Linked DNA regions of Homo sapiens. The protein of the gene in region 1 purifies or fractionates together with the protein of each later gene. This does not show direct contact. Each region holds a gene or a part of one and is shown in the gene's direction. Other genes may lie near its edges.

What was found.
Region 2: the proteins of WDR53 (region 1) and BLVRA purify together in Homo sapiens (affinity purification with mass spectrometry; 2 studies listed by BioGRID and IntAct, with this or other methods). This does not show direct contact.
Region 3: the proteins of WDR53 (region 1) and NACAD purify together in Homo sapiens (affinity purification with mass spectrometry; one large-scale study listed by BioGRID and IntAct). This does not show direct contact.

What each region holds. Positions count from the first base shown.
Region 1 is NC_000003.12:196,556,000-196,558,593, reverse strand, and holds part of WDR53 (WD repeat-containing protein 53), read left to right. Parts: intron 1-2,594.
Region 2 is NC_000007.14:43,782,629-43,786,283, forward strand, and holds part of BLVRA (biliverdin reductase A), read left to right. Parts: intron 1-3,655. UniProt on the Homo sapiens protein: Reduces the gamma-methene bridge of the open tetrapyrrole, biliverdin IXalpha, to bilirubin with the concomitant oxidation of a NADH or NADPH cofactor. Does not reduce bilirubin IXbeta.
Region 3 is NC_000007.14:45,079,807-45,082,978, reverse strand, and holds the end of NACAD (NAC-alpha domain-containing protein 1), read left to right. Parts: coding exon 1-871; intron 872-1,111; coding exon 1,112-1,224; intron 1,225-1,306; coding exon 1,307-1,378; intron 1,379-1,715; coding exon 1,716-1,862; intron 1,863-1,956; coding exon 1,957-2,103; intron 2,104-2,216; coding exon 2,217-2,339; intron 2,340-2,455; coding exon 2,456-2,470; 3' UTR 2,471-2,542; downstream 2,543-3,172. UniProt on the Homo sapiens protein: May prevent inappropriate targeting of non-secretory polypeptides to the endoplasmic reticulum (ER).

The sequences.
Region 1 (2,594 bases):
CCTATCTTTTTTCTTATGTAACAGTAATTATAAAGTTATGTCTTTTGACTTAGGTTTAAATAATTAGGCAGGGCCAGGTGTGGTAGCTTATGTGCCTGAGGGCTCATGCCTGGGATCCCAGCACTTTGGGAGGCCAAGGCAGGCAGATCACTTGAGCCCAGGAGTTCGAGACCAGCCTGGACAACATGGCAAAACCCTATCTCTACCGAAAATACGAAAATTAGCCAGGTGTGCTAGCATCCACCTGTGGTCCCAGCTACTTAGGAAGTTGACGTGGGAGGATCACCTGAGCCCAGGGAGGTGGAGGTTGTAGTGAGCCATGATCTCGCCACTGCACTCCAGCCTGGATGACAAAGTGAGACCCTGTCTCAAAAAAATAAAATAGGCAAAGCGCATTCAAAGAGGCAGGGACCCTAAAAGCAAAGTGTGGTTCTTTAAGACACGTGAGACTGCTTAATTTTTTATTTAATAGGTACAAAGTAATATTTATATATATGAGGTGTAAAGGATAACATTAGGCCAGGCGCAGTGGCTCATGCCTATAATCCCAGAACTTTGGGAGGCCATGGCAGGTGGATCGCTTGAGCTCAGGAGTTTGTGACCAGCCTGGGCAACATAGCGAAACCCCATCTCTACAAAAGATACAAAAAGTAGCCAGGTGTGTAGTGAGCACCTGTAGTCCCAGCTACTTGGGGGGCTGAGACGGGAGAATTGCTTGATCCCGAGAGGTTGAGGTTGCAGTGAGCCAAGATTGTGCCACTGCACTCCAGCCTGGGTGACAGTGAGACCTTGTCTCAAAAAAAAAAAAAGAAAAGAAAAAAAATTAAATAAATACCTGTATACCTACCATTCAACTATAGTTTTTTTCTTGAAAGACTTAGAAAATTAAAACTGTCATATTTCTGTAGCATACATGTTGATTTTCTTTCCCTGCCCCTTTCTGCATCTGAAAACAAATGATTGAAAGGTTTGTTGTTCTTTCTGGATTTTTAAAACCAAAATCCCAACACTTACAGACCAGGATGGTAGAGAAGGCTCTTTTGTTTGTTTGTTTTTGAGACAGGGTCTTTGTCATCCAGGCTGGAGTGCAGTGGTACAATTAGAGCTCACCGCAGCCTCGCACTCCCTCAGGTGATCCTCCCACCTCATCCTCCTGCATAGCTGGGACTACAGGCACAAGCCGACACACCCAGCTAATTTTTTTTATTTTTGCTGCAGAGGAGGGCTGGCTCCCTGTGTTCCCCAGGCTGGTCTCGAACTCCTGGGCTCAAGCAGTCCTGCCATGGCCTCCCAAAGTGCTGGGATTATAGGCATGAGCCACTGCACCTGGCCTGAAGAGGCTCTTTATCTTGAAGACGAGTCTTTTATGTGGAAAGAAATGTTTTTGTAAAAGGGGAATTTGTTTTGAAAGGTCACTTTGTTATGATTACATTCACTTCTGAACATTTGCTGGTTCCCCACTTTTTCTCCCTTCGATGTTTTGCAGAACCATAAGCCCCAAACTCTTTATTCTTTTCTTTCAGTATCTCTAGCTCTCTTGATTAGGATGAGAACTGCTTGAACAGCTGGTTGAGAAATTAAGTGTGAAACACCTTGGAGTCTTTAGCATTTTAGAAAAGTCAAGAAGCATAAAGGGAATGTCCAGACAGGAACAGTCTGGAATCCTCAATACGTGGAAATGATTCTAGACTTGGTAGAATCTGGGATGGCTGTTAACACATTTAGATGATTTAAGTCAAATACAAAAGGTGTTTCAGCTGCTGAAACACTCTGGGTGCAGTGCATGTTTGAATGTCTTTGGAGGACAGAAAATACAGTCCATTCATAAGGGCTGTATGAGAAAGAACTGGGTCTATCTGCCAATACAGTGAAGCTAGCAGATTCTAGAATGTCCATTTTCTGTGTGTGTGTGTGTGTATTTTCTTTTTTTTTTTTTTAAAGACGGAGTCTTGCTCTGTTGCCCAGGCTGGAGTGCAATGGTGTGATCTCGGCTCACTGCAAGCTCTGCCTCCCAGGTTCACGCCATTCTCCTGCCTCAGCCTCCCGAGTAGCTGGGACTACAGGCGCCCACCACCATGCCTAGCTAATTTTTTGTATTTTTAGTAGAGATGCAGTTTCACTGTGTTAGCCAGGATGGTCTCGATCTCCTGACATCGTGATCCGCCCACCTCAGCCTCCCAAAGTGCTGGGATTAGAGGTGTGAGCCACCGTGCCCAGCCGTGTTCAGATTTTTTAATAGAAACTGTTTTGGGGCATTGTGGCTGATGCGTGTAATCCCATCACTTTGGGAGGTGGAGATGAGTGGATCGCTTGAGCCCAGCAGTTGGAGACCAGCCTGGGCAACATAGCAAAAACCCCATCTCTACAAAAAAATACAAAAATTAGCTGGGTGTGGTAGCATGCGCCTGTAGTCCCATCTACTTGGGAGGCTGAGGTGGAAGGATCACTTGAACCCAAGAGGTCAAGGCTGCAGTGAGCCATGGTCATGCCACTGCACTCTAGCCTGGGTGACAAAGTGAGACCCTATTTTTAAAAAAAAAACTATTTTCATATCAAGTTTCAGCACTCCTTCGTGTTATATTTTCTAATATTTA
Region 2 (3,655 bases), on another chromosome or scaffold:
AGAATGAGGGACCCCCATATTCTGGGGACATGGGAGAGAGAGAAAAATAGAGGGATGAAGACTGAGCTTTGGGAAATATGCACATCTTGGGTAAAATGAAGAAAGAAAGTGAAATGTGAAAAGAAAACCTCGGTAGCATGAGGTAAGAGAAGAAAGGAAGGAGTGAGTTTGAAGAAGGTCCAGGTAAGGGTCACTCATGTCTGAAGTCCAGGAGGATGTGGCTGAGAAGAAGCCCTTGAATGTGATGAGAAGGTCTTGGATGACCCACGGTGAAGCAGGGAGGTATGGGAGTGAAAACCAATTGCAGCAGGGCCAGGAGGGGTGAGAGGAGTCTGGGGCACTTGGGGTCATTGGACAGGGCAGGGGCAGGGGCAGCAGAGGACTCTGAGCACTGTAGAGGGAGCTCCAGGAAGGGAAGCGGGAGTGAGCCAAGGCGCTATACACTGCAGAATTCTCACCTTCCTAGAGCAGCCCTCTGATATTTATGTCTGTTTTCAGTGGTGGTTTATATTTTAGATAGTGAATACATTTGTGTGATTCTAAACTTTAAAGAGGAAAAAAAGAAAAAAAAATATTTTCTATGAGAAGCCTTCTTCCCTCCTATCCCTGTTTCCCAGCCACTCTGTTTTTCTTGCTCCCAGCAAGAGCATGTCGCCAGTTTCAGTGTTACAGGTTTCTGGGCTGTCCTTTCAAAGAGATTCTAAACATAGACAGTATCTTTTTCCTTTGGCTACCACCCCTCCTGTTACTACACAGACTGTAGCACACAGTGCACACTAGGCTGTCGTTTGCTTCTTTCACCCGATCATCTATCTTGGAGACCAGTCCCTTTCAATATATAAAGGGCTTCCTCGTTCTTTTATTTTTATATTGCCATGTAATACTCTATATCACGAGTCTATCATAACTTTCATAGCCAGCCTGTTATTAATGACATATAGATTATTTCCATCTTTTGCTTGTTATAAGCAAGGCTGCAGTAAGCCTAAGTCACTTGACTTGTGTAGCTCTATAGGACACATTATCTTACAGTTGGATTTACCAGAACAAAGGGCATTTGCATTTTAATTTGTAATAAATATTTCCAAGTTGCTCTCCATAAAGCAGGTTCTTCTCTCCCTCCTGCAACATATGAACATACCTGTTTCCCCAGGCCAACCAATGTGTTATCAAACTTTTTTTTAATTCTTGCAAATAGTGGATGAAAACGACTAGTTTGTTCTGTCCAACTGCCTGGACTCTCCTTCCACCTTTTCAGCACCTGCCCTCATGCCTCACCTTGAAGTTTTTCTACAGTGATTTTACATTTTCTTCTACCCTCTTTATCTCAAAAAAAATTTTTTTTCTAAGTTGGCAGAGCACATTCCTAACTATGAACTCCATTTTTGCATCTGGAGTGCCAAACACCAGCTTCTCTGAGTCCAAGGGTGGGGGCGCAAGCTCACTCTGTGACTGTGATTTGGACCTAAGTGAGTTTTTTAGTCACTTTGCTGTGCTTATGTGTCCTTTTCTGCTGTCTCAAAACTGCTCCTGTTCTTTGTTCCTTAAATACCACCTCTATAGGGCTATTTGTAGTGGCATTTTCCCAAAGGTTCAGGATAGCAGAGCACAGCAGACAACTGAAAATGGAACTGTGGATGTCCTGGTTTCTGGAAGTCCATTGCTCCCTCCTCCACTGGGCGTTTCTCACTGGCTTCCTTCTCTGCAGATTTTAGCCTTTTGCTAACCTGCGTGCACTTTCCCCTTTCCTCTGCCTCCTACTGGTTCCTAGCCCCAAAGTTTTAGCTGCTACTACAGAGTGGTCTAGCCATCTCTGATTTGCAGTTTCCCTTCAGAACGCACCTTCAAGATCCCTCATGTAAAATGAAGAGGCTCACGTTAAAAGGCCTAACAAGTAATTTTTCTCAAAAATAAAGTTCTTCCCCTAAGAGCAGCTTGACTATTAAGATACCAGTGTCTTCACTCATATCTTTTTTTTTTTTTTTTTTTTTTTGAGATGGAGTGTTGCTCTGTCGCCCAGGCTGAAGTGCAGTGGTGCAATCTTGGCTCACCGCAACCCCTGCCTCCCCGGTTCAAGCGATTCTCCTGCCTCAGGCTACCAAGTAGCTGGGGTTACAGGCACCCGCCACCACCATACCTGGCTAATTTTTTGTATTTTTAGTAGAGGCAGGGTTTCACTATGTTGGTCGGGCAAGTCTGGAAACTCCTGACCTCAAGTGATCCGCCCACCTCAGCCTCCCAGAGTGCTGGGTTTACAGACATGAGCTACTGCACTGGGCCTTTCACCCATATCTTGTCCCTGTGTGTCAGTTTTGCAAGGCAGTAATATCGAAACCAAATCCTAAAGCAGTTTATAATTTAGCCTGACACACTGTGCAAGCCAGGTTTTGTATGCAAGTTTGTGTGTATCATTAACTAATGAAATCTTAAAAAGCAGTTTGGCTTATTTATAGATAATGGAGCTGTTTCTTAACCTTGTGCCTTTTTTTTAAGCTGGTAGAAGCATATCCTGGTTATTATCTGGAATGTAGTAATACGGTAACCTTAAGAATGCCATAAATATTTAACCTAATAAGGGGATTGCTAGTCTTCTTTTCTTGATTGAAAGGGAAACAAATATTAATATTTGATCATTAATATGTGTTTTGGCTGTACAGATTTCTCCAGAGGCTGTCTTACTGCTTTTTGGTAATTAGAAATTACCAAAAAAAAAAAAAAAGAAAAGAAAACAAGACTAGTAACCCAAAAAGGACTTACTTGGTGAAATTGTCAATTGTCAGTTGGGCACTGTGGCCACTCCTTCCTATACTCTTCCCTGACTTCCAGAAGAGAAGCCAGGAACTAGGTCTCCCAGAGTCCCCTTTTATATGTGAAGTCCACTCCCAGGACTCCCAGGAAACTTGCAAGGCTGAAGAAAGAGAGGCAGTTAGTCATAGGAGACAGTTCAGTCAGATGTGTGAGCCAAGGCCAGTGTATGGTTTAGCAGCAGTGGACAGTCAGGCTCTGTGAATCACTCTTCCCAAGCTGCAGGCTGACAGAGGCTGAGATCCTTTCCAGACGTCTTGGCTTCTGGGCAAGTTCTGGAGAATCTCTCGCTTCAATATTGAATTGTATAACAACAGTACAAGGTCTAGGAGAAAAGAAATGGAAGTGTACTGTTGTCAGGTTCTTTATAGTATATGTGGAATAGTGCATAATATTACTTTAAAGTAGACTGTGGTAAGTAAAATATATAATATAAAATCCTTAACTTCTGAAAAAGAGTTATAGCTAATAGCCAACAAATGGGATAAAATGGAATCATAATAAATATTCTAATTAATCCAAAATAAGGCAGGAAAAGAGGGGAAAAAGAACAGATTGAACAAATAGCAGGATTTCTATAGAATTTGAATGGAAACCCAACCATATCAATAATCACAATGTAAATTGTCTAAACGTTTCAACTAAAAGGCAGAGATTGTTAGACTGAGTAAAAAAAAGCAAGACCTAACTATATGCTGCCTATAAGAAACTAACTATAGCTATGAAAACACATATAGATTAAATGTGAAAGGTTGGGGAAAAAATGTATTATGCAACACTGATCAACAGAAATTGGGAATGGATTGTTAATATCAGACAAAATAAATTATAGGGCAAAAAATATTACCAG
Region 3 (3,172 bases), on another chromosome or scaffold:
TCACCCCAAAAGGAGACCCTGGAGGTTGAGAACCAGCAGGAAGGAGGCCTGAAGCCACTGGCACAGGAACATGGACCCAGGTCAGCACTTGGAGGTGCAAGGGAGGTCCCCGATGCGCCTCCTGCTGCCTGCCCTGAGGTCAGCCAGGCCCGGCTCCTGAGCCCAGCCAGGGAGGAAAGAGGCCTGAGTGGCAAGTCCACCCCGGAGCCCACGCTTCCCTCAGCTGTGGCCACAGAGGCCAGTCTGGACTCCTGCCCAGAGTCTTCAGTAGGGGCTGTGTCCAGTCTGGACAGAGGCTGCCCTGACGCGCCTGCCCCCACGTCTGCACCAACCTCCCAGCAGCCGGAGCCTGTACTGGGTCTGGGCAGTGTTGAGCAACCCCACGAAGTACCCAGTGTCCTTGGCACCCCCTTGCTGCAGCCCCCAGAAAACCTTGCCAAGGGTCAGCCCAGCACGCCCGTGGACAGGCCCCTGGGCCCTGACCCTTCTGCTCCTGGTACCCTTGCTGGGGCAGCCCTACCCCCACTGGAGCCCCCAGCCCCCTGCCTGTGCCAGGACCCCCAGGAAGACTCTGTGGAAGACGAGGAGCCCCCAGGCTCTCTGGGCCTCCCACCGCCCCAGGCAGGAGTCCAGCCTGCCGCTGCTGCTGTCTCAGGAACCACACAGCCTCTGGGGACTGGGCCGCGAGTCAGCCTCTCGCCTCACTCCCCACTCCTCAGCCCCAAGGTGGCCTCCATGGATGCCAAAGACCTGGCCTTGCAGATCTTGCCGCCTTGCCAAGTGCCTCCTCCCTCTGGGCCCCAGAGCCCAGCTGGCCCTCAAGGGCTCTCAGCCCCCGAGCAGCAAGAGGATGAGGACAGCCTGGAGGAAGGTAAGGCAGAGGGTGGGAGTGAAGTGCCCTGGGGCTTGGGTCAACTGGACTCCTCCTTAGAGCTGTCCTGAGCTGGAGGGCCTCTGAGGTGGCGAGGTGGGGGGCCCAGACCCCACAGCCACCATGGAGAGCTGGCACTGCTTCCTCTGGCCCTGATGTGGCAGCAGGGCCAGGGTCCTGAACCCCCTTCCCCGCCACCTAGAAGCAAAAGGCCATCCTCACACCTCTCCCCTTCCCCAGACTCGCCTCGGGCCCTGGGCTCGGGCCAGCATTCGGATAGCCACGGGGAGTCATCAGCCGAGCTGGACGAGCAGGACATCTTGGCTCCTCAGACCGTGCAGTGTCCAGCCCAGGTGCCCAGTCCAGGGAAGAGGGTGGGCCTCTGGGAGGGCCCCACACCCCACCCATGGATGCTCAGCCCTCACCTTTTCTCAGGCCCCAGCAGGCGGCAGTGAGGAGACCATCGCCAAAGCCAAGCAGAGTCGCAGTGAGAAGAAGGCCCGAAAGGTGGGCTGGTGGCTCCCTCTGGGACCTCAGGCCTGGGACCATCTGTGTGGGGAACGTCCTTACCAAGACCCTCACACTCCATGGCTAATGAAATCCCATCCATCAGGGGACCTTTGGGTCCATGCCAGTAACCCACACACCTTCCCCTAAACAGCTGAGGCTGGAATGTCATGAGAAGGCCCTTATAGACTGAGGCTCATGGGGAAGGACCAACCACCAGCCCAAGGTCTTGGGGAAGTTGGCGGTGGAGACTTTGCCTTCCTGGGCACTGTGCTGCTCTCCTCCCCCGACGTGGGTCAACACCAGGTCTGAGCCCCCCTCTGCCCTCTACTCCCAGGCAATGTCAAAGCTGGGCTTGCGGCAGATTCAGGGAGTCACCAGGATCACCATCCAGAAGTCCAAGAACATCCTCTTTGTCATCGCCAAGCCTGATGTCTTCAAGAGCCCAGCCTCAGACACTTATGTGGTCTTTGGCGAGGCCAAGGTCTGGGTGGCGGCTGTGGTGGAATGGGGGATCCGAGGGATAGGGGACAAGGGGGGGACAGGCTCTACTGACACAGCTGTCTTCCATTTTGCAGATTGAGGACCTGTCCCAGCAAGTGCACAAAGCCGCAGCTGAGAAGTTTAAGGTGCCCTCAGAGCCCTCAGCCTTGGTCCCTGAGTCAGCACCCAGGCCCCGGGTGAGGCTGGAGTGCAAGGAAGAGGAAGAGGAGGAGGAGGAAGAGGTGAAGTGCAGGGGCTCCAGGGCCTCGCAGGGGGTGGTGGGAGGCGCTACATGGGGGCTCTGCCCCAGGGACCTCAAGCAGCTCCAGCCACTTCCCTGCTCCCCCAACTCCAGGTGGACGAGGCGGGGCTGGAACTGCGTGACATTGAGCTGGTGATGGCGCAGGCCAATGTGTCCAGGGCCAAGGCCGTGCGGGCTCTGAGAGACAACCACAGTGACATCGTCAACGCCATCATGGTGAGTGAGCACTGGCCCCTTTCCCTACCCCTGAGCTGTCCCCAAGGGCCTCGAGAGGTCCTGATGTTGGCTCCACTGCGGGGTGCTTCCCCCAACATGACCATCTCTTTCTGCAGGAACTGACCATGTAGCCACTGACCGGAAGCTGGAGCCATCCTACGCCTTCCCTCAGCTCTGCTACTCAATAAATCGGTGTCCCTTCATTGCCCTCTGGTGTCTCCTCCTCGCCCTCTGGAGTCCCATCATCACCATCTGGCATCCCTTCACTTCCCTCTGGTGTCCCTTCACCACCATCTGGTGTCCCCTTACTGCCCTGTGGTGTCCACTCATTACTCTGTGGTGTCCCCTCACTGCCCTCTGGTGCCCCCTCATCACCCTCTGGTGTCCCTTCATCACCCTCTTGTGTCCCCTCACTTCCCTCTGGTGTCCCCTCATCACCCTCTTGTGTCCCTTCATCACCCTGTGTCCCCTCACTTCCCTCTGGTGTCCCCTCACCACCCTCTGATGTCCCCTCATTACTCTCTGGTGTCACCTCAATACTCACCAGTGTCCCCTCACTGCCCTTTGGTGTCCCCTCATTACTCTCTGGTGTCCCCTCACCGCCCTCTGGTGTCCCCTCAATACTCCCCGGTGTACCTTCACCACCCTCTGGTGTCCCCTGCTCTCTGGTGTCCCAATACTCTCTGATGTCCCAATACTCTCTGGTGTCCCCTCATTACTCTCTGGTGTCCCCTCACTGCCCTCTGGTGTCCCCGCAATACTCTCTGGTGTCCCCTCACCACCCTCTGGTGTCTCAATACTCTCTGGTGTCCCCTCACCGCCTTCTGATGTCC